Linked DNA regions of Homo sapiens. The protein of the gene in region 1 purifies or fractionates together with the protein of each later gene. This does not show direct contact. Each region holds a gene or a part of one and is shown on either strand. Other genes may lie near its edges.

The links. The genes of interacting proteins can lie anywhere in the genome.
Region 2: the proteins of KPNA6 (region 1) and CARD19 purify together in Homo sapiens (affinity purification with western blotting; one study listed by BioGRID). This does not show direct contact.

Annotation. Positions count from the first base shown.
Region 1 is NC_000001.11:32,111,056-32,114,555, reverse strand, and holds part of KPNA6 (importin subunit alpha-7), read right to left. Parts: intron 1-3,500. UniProt on the Homo sapiens protein: Functions in nuclear protein import as an adapter protein for nuclear receptor KPNB1. Binds specifically and directly to substrates containing either a simple or bipartite NLS motif.
Region 2 is NC_000009.12:93,106,217-93,109,716, reverse strand, and holds part of CARD19 (caspase recruitment domain-containing protein 19), read right to left. Parts: intron 2,044-3,500; coding exon 1,901-2,043; coding exon of another isoform or gene 1,890-1,900; intron 727-1,889; exon of another isoform or gene 625-726; intron 1-624. UniProt on the Homo sapiens protein: Plays a role in inhibiting the effects of BCL10-induced activation of NF-kappa-B. May inhibit the phosphorylation of BCL10 in a CARD-dependent manner.

The sequences.
Region 1 (3,500 bases):
ATGCTGAATCCACTGTGTTTATGCTTTATAAATGGAATAAAGCCTGGATGACAGCACATCTGTTTACAGCTTGATTTACTGAATATATATATATATATATATATTTTTTTTTTTGAGACAGAGTTTCGTTCTTGTCGCCCAGGCTGGAGTGCTGTGGCGTGATCTCAGCTCACTGCAACCTCCACCTCCCAGGTTCAAACAATTCTCTTGCCTCAGCCTCCACAGTAGCTGGGATTATAGGTGTGCACCACCACACCAGGCTAATTTTTTGTATTTCTAGTAGAGACAAGGTTTCACCACATTGGCCAGGCTGGTCTCGAACTCCTGACCTCAAGTGGTCTGCCCGCCTCGGCCTCCCAAATTGCTGGGGTTACAGGTGTGAGCCATTGCGCCGGCCTAATGTTGTTTTCCCACCTGTTAATACAACATCCATTCTGTAGCTATACAGAATCCATCCATTCTGTATGAATTAAGGAGTGATTTCAACTTTCAGGTCTTATAAAAACATTCACGATTCATAAGAAGTCAAAATATCATAAATAAGAGTTTGGAAGAAGTTGATACCAACCCTCACGGATGACTTTAAGAGGTTCAAGACTTCAATGGAGCAAGTTACTGCAGATGGGGTGGAAACAGCAAGATAACTAGAAGTGAAAATGTGATAACTAGACAACTGAAAATATGATTGAATTGCTGCAATCTCACGATCAAACTTGAATGGATGAGCAGCTATTCTTACGGGTGGGCAAACAAATGGTTTCTTGAGATGGAATCTACTCCTTGTGAAAATGCCGTTAATCCTGTTGATAAGACAATAGGCTGGGCAAGGTGGCTCACACCTGTAATCCCAACACTTTGGGAGGCTAAGGCAGGAAGATCACTTGAGCCCAGTTCAAGACAGGCTTAGGCAACACTCTTTAAAAACAATTTAAAAAATTAGCCGGGCATGGTGGTGCATGCCTGTAGTCCCAGCTACTCGGGAGGCTGAAGTAGGAGGATTGCTTGAGCCTGGGAATTCAAGGCTGTAGTGAGCTGTTGATAGCACCACTGCATTCCAGCCTGTGTGACAGAGTGAGACCCTGTCTTAATAAATAAAAAAAACATATATACATACATACATACACACATACATGAAATGACAACAAAGGATTTTTGGGGTTTTTTTGAGACAAGATCTTGCTCTGTCGCCCAGGCTGGTGTGCAATGGCACAATCATCTCACTGCAACCTCAACCTCCCAGGTTCAAGTGATTCTCCCACTTCAGTTTCCTGAGTAGCTGGGACTACAGTCACGCGCCACCACACCCAGCTAATTTTTTAAATGTTTTTTTAGAGATGGGGTCTCACTATGTTGCCCAGGCTGGTCTGAAACTCTTGAGCTCAAGCAGTCCTCCCACCTCATCCTCTCAAAGTGCTGGCATCATAGGCGTGAGCCACCAAGACCGGCAGATTTAGAACATTACATAAACTTAGTTGATAAAGCAGTGGCAGGGTTTGAGAGTACTGACTCTAATTTTGAAAGGTCTATGGCAGAGAGAAATGTTATCAAACAGTATCACATTACAGAGAAATCTGTGGTGAAAGGAAGAATCAATTGATGTGGCAAATTTCATAGGTTGTTACTGCCACCCCAGACAATCACCACCCTGATCAGTCTCAGCAGCCATCAACATCAAGGTAAGACCCTCCACCAGCAAAGATTACAGCTCACCAAATGGCAATTTTTCACAATAAGGATTTCTTAATTAAGATATGTACTTTTGGCTGGGCATGGTGGCTCATGCATGCCTATAATCCCAGCACTTTGGGAGGCTGAGGCAGGCAGATCATGAGGTCAGGAGTTCAAGACCAGCCTGTCCAACATGGTAAAACTCCGTCTCTACTAAAAATACAAAAATTAGCTGGGTGTGGTGGTGGGCACCTGTAATCCCAGCTACTCAGGAGGCTGAGGCAGGAGAATGGTTTGAACCCAGGAAGCGGAGGTTGCAGTGAGCCGAGATCACGCCATTGCACTCCAGCCTGGGTGACAGACAGGGCCAGCCTGTCTCAAATAAATAAATAAATAAATAAAAGAGGTACTTTTACTCTACATATTATTGCACACTTAAGAGACTACAGTATAGTATAAAGATAACTTTTATATGCATTGGAAAACAGAAAAATTCATGTGACTTGCTTTATTATATTTGCTTTATTGCAGTGGTCTGGAACCAAACTTGCCTTAGCTCTGAGGTATGCCTCTACTTAGAAGAGTACCTAGCACATAGCAAGTTCTATACAAGTGTTGGGTATTATTATTATTATAGCTTTCCCATCTCTGTCTTTGTTTGTGGTTCACACATTTTGGTGCAACCTGGGTTAAAATACAAACTGGCAAAAAATAATAAAATAAAAGCTGGCAAGTCTCTTTTAAATAAGGAAGGCTTCTCCACAAGTTCCCCAGGCTTCCCTTCCCATCTAATTAGCAAGAACTGCATCATATGCCCATGCCTAAATCAATCACTGTCTAGGGAGCTAGAGTTACAATGATTGGTTTAGAGTTTATATCAAGACCCACCCCTTGGGGTAAGGAAGGGTGGCCAGATTCCCAGTTAGCACAGTAGTAGTAATGGTGAAAAGACAAGTAGTGTCTGCCAAGACTCATGAGGTTGTAGTCTCTGCTAGAGGGTCAGAATAAAGCAATCTCCAGAGCTACAAATATCACCCCTACAGGGCACCTAGTGGCAGGGAAATCACTGCAAAGGTCTGTTAAGGGTAATGAAGTTTGGCATAGTAGAAATAGTGTAGGATATACGACTGAGCTAGTAGGATACAGACTGAGAGTACACTTAAGAGGCAGTGAAATACGGCAGGTTCCGTACTTGTGGGCATGTGAAGGCAGGCTGTGTTAGTGTCTCCAGTGCCCAAAGGATCCAGAATACCAGCCTTGGACTAGTCACCTAATCTTCTCAAAGCCTCAGTTTATAAGTGTAAATGGAGATAACCCAAGATACCTTAGATTAGATGTTAGAATTAAATGAATGCATTAGTTTGGTCTACAACAAACAAAAAGCTGACATTCATAAAGACAAGCTACGATGAGGGAGAGGTACCTGAGATGGAGCTGGAAAGAGGAAGTTACCTGACTCTAGGCTAAAAACCCCCTTCAAGACCTTGGTCAGGGTTTGTTGCTCCACTGAAGAACTTTCATGTTGAACTGTACCAGAATAGGACTAACTTTATTTCTTAACTTCTTAAGTCTTATAGATTTATGTGCTGCAAAATGGGTAAGAATCTTACTCCTGGCTTTGTGGCTTACTGGCTGTGTTATCTTCTCCGAGACAGTTTCCCAATCTATAAAACTGAGTAAATCTCTACTTATTTCACTGAGCTTATTAAACATTAGTTCCTTCCCTTTGAGGCAACAGTGTTTCTGAAACTGAAGACCAATATAAAATTTATAACAAAGTTTATAACATAAAACCCCCTAAATTTTTTTCACTGAAAGATGAAGCTCCAGCT
Region 2 (3,500 bases), on another chromosome or scaffold:
AGGCGGATCAGGAGTTCCAGGTCAGGAGTTTGACACCAGCCTGGCCAACACGGTGAAACCCCATCTCTACTAAAAGTACAAAAAATTGACTGGGCATGATGGTGCATGTTTAATCCCAGCTTCTTGGGAGGCTGAGGCCAGAGGATTGCTTGAAACTGGGAGGCAGAGGTTGCACTGAGCCGAGATCATGCCACTGCACTCCAGCCTGGGCGACAGAGACTCCATCTCAAAGAAAAAAAAAAAAAGACAGAAGTATTGGCTCTTTTGATGTGTATGACAGAGAAATGTGTGGTTCTCAAGGTCAGTGGACAGGCCACTGGGCCTTGACCTCCAGGACCTGGAGTCTGTGGCCTGGTGCTGCCACCTGGTGGCAGCATATCATTCTACATGGCCACAGGGAACTGGAGTTAAACCATGGCAGTGTGAAAATGGCAGGCAGATGGGTGGCAGGAGCTGTGGTGTCTGTGAGGAAGGAATATGTGCTTTTTCTTGTATAAACGTCTTAAACTTTCTAAACTTTTTAAAAGTGAACATGCATTAGACTTCAATTGCAATAATAAGAGATTTGGATTTGAGCTCCTAACTTTTAAAATTACTGTACCACCTTCAAAACGGAAGAAGCACCTGAGCCAGTAGCAGGGCCCGTGTTGACTCCTGTTCTGTTGTGGGCCAACCTCATTGTTCCAGGAGATGCCCCAACCCTCAGGATAGCCCTGCACGTGGCACCTGTCAAGGAACAGGTGGCTCAGTGGGGGCGCCAGAGCCACAGATGTGGGTAGGGTCGGCAGGGTGTGGCTAACTCTCTCATCCAATGTCCCCTCAGGGCCACCTGGCACTGGGGTGATGGAGCAGAACAGACCTCCCAAGACAGAGCCCAGGAATTGCATCTTAAATGCCATCTCCAGCAGAGCCACCCTGGTGTGCCCAGCTCTGCAGCTCTGAGAGGCCAGGGCCATGTGACAGAGTGACAGCCACTGGCCCTGGGCACTTTCCCAAATAATAGGATGAACTCAAGATGTGGCCTGACACTCCTGAAATGAGTGGCCCTGGGCAAGTGGCTGCCTCTTGAGCCTTCGGACCACCTCTGTGAGATGGGGTGATGAGCGTGGCTGCCCACAGGGCTGCAGGGCCATCTGGCGACAAGGGCTCTCGGGCAGGCGTTTACCCGGCTCAGCTCAGTCAGTCCTCACCACACCTGCCAGGCAGGGGCTCTCGGTGTCCACTCCACACATGGGGGAGGCTGGGGTTCTGAGGGGACCAGCCCGCTCAGCACTGCTGAGAGGGGCAGACTGGGGCGCGGCTGTGGGGTGAGTCAGCATCTGCCTTCCTAGAAGCTCAGCTGCCTACCTGTGACATGCTGGGCTTTCCAGCCTCGTACAGTAATATAGAAATTAGAGAAAAGGAAGCAATTGTTTGCCCGCTTTGAACCTTCGGAAGATGCAGAGTGCAAAGCCCTGTGGCACTGGGGTGGGCCGGGCCCATTATCTGTTCCCCATCCCACTTCGGCTCTCCCTCTGCCTCCTCCCTCCTCACCCCTCCCTCCTGCCCTCTTTCTCGCCTCCCTCCGTATCTTATACTGTTGTGTGCTTCATGTATTGTCACATGTTATCTCCTGTAACCTCCCAGCAACTCGGGAAGGGGACAGCAGACCCAATGACATATGAAGAAACCGAGGCACAGAGAGCTGATGTTCCGAGCCTGGTTGGGCTCACCCCAAAGGGCCAGTTTGTAGCTCAGGCAGCCTTAGTAGCCAGGTCCAGATGTGTCACCTCTGAATCCTGACATACCTAGTGTGTCATCCCATGAGAGAATGACCCAGGGCTGGTCACCAGCTTCTCCCAGCCCAGAAAGGAAGGGAAACTGAGCAGTGTCTCGGGTACCCCCCTCACCTCCTCAGCACCTTTTCCGCCTCCTTGTTGGTAAGGATCTGTGGGTAGTAACGGTTCAGCTGGAGGATGATCCTGTCCACCTGCTGCTCACTCAAGCGCCCATGGCCTGTCAGGAAAGGCGTGTCCTGCACCAGGCGGTCACAATAGGTCTGATCTAAAACAGATAGCACAGGGTCATGAGCCAGCACAGCCCAAGGGGACCAGAGACGACAGCCTCGTACTGACACTGACCACAGGAAGGCATCACCCCCAAGGTGGGTTCCCACCAGGAGGGTGAACCTGCAGAATCACAGCCATCCCAGCCTGTGTGGTGCGCATTGCCCAGCTGAGAGCTGCCCCTGGCCTGCCAACCTGCCTCTCCAGAAGATGGAAGTGAGGGGTTGCGGTGGAAACCCACTTTCACAGAGCTTATCACAGAAAACAAACTCAGAGGGGCGAAGAATCTACTTTTCATGGGCCACCTGCAGGGCCATCAGGAAATAGCTCAGTTCTGGGGAAGGTACAGGTGGCACAGGTGGCTCAGAATGCCCAGGGCCAGGCACGGTGGCTCAGACCAGTTGTGATGGCTCACACCCGTAATACCAACATTTTGGGAGGCTGAGGTGGGTGGATCACTTGAGCTCAGGAGTTCGAGATCAAGAATGCCCAGATGTGCGCTCTGCAGATCTTCACAGTGGCACAGATACAGGGACACAGGGCTCAGGGTGGCCTGTGCTGGGATCACCATGGGACACAGTGTGTCTGCAAGGCCTTAAGAAGCTTCTACCAACAATAAACCAGTGAGTTCTCCCAGAGGGCTAGAAATGCTTTTCATTTGCCTTTTTTTTTTCCAGAATCACCATTAAAATATCATTTTACCACCTTTTCCATTAAGAATGTTTCTTAGAATGGCAGATGTTTAAGGCTGAGCGGTGGAGTGATGACGGAAGGGCATGGAGAGGATGGGGCACAGGACCCCCACAGGGACTGAACAAGTGCATCACCCTACATACTTGTGGCAGCTTGTCCTGTTTCCCCATGTACACAAAGAAAATATTTATAGAATATAACACAAAAGAAACTGAGAAGGGACTCTAAATGTGTTACTATAAAATATCAACAAAACACAAAAGAAGGCAGTAATAGAATAAATGAGGGTCAAAAAAGCTACAAGACATACAGGAAACAAATAGCAAAATGGCAGTAGTAATACATTCCTTATCAGCAATTACTTCAAATGCAAATAGGTTAAACTTTGTTTTTTTTTTTTTGTTTTTTTTTGAGATAGAGTCTTGCTCTGTCACCCAAGCTGGAGTGCAGTGGCCCAATCTCGGCTCACTGCAACCTCTGCCTCCTGGGTTCAAGCAATTCTTCCTGGGATTACAGGCATGTGCCACAACACCCAGCTGGTTTTTGTATTTTTTTTTTTTTTTTAGTAGAGACAGGGTTTCACCATGTTGGCCAGGCTGGTGTCAAACTCCTGACCTCAGGTGATCTGCCTACCTCAGCCTCCCAAAGTGCTGGGAATACAGGTGTAAGCCACCACACCCAGCCAAATTTTCCTATCAAAAGGCATAGATTGGCAGAGTGGATTTTTAAAATATGATACAACTAAGTGCTGTCTACAAAAGA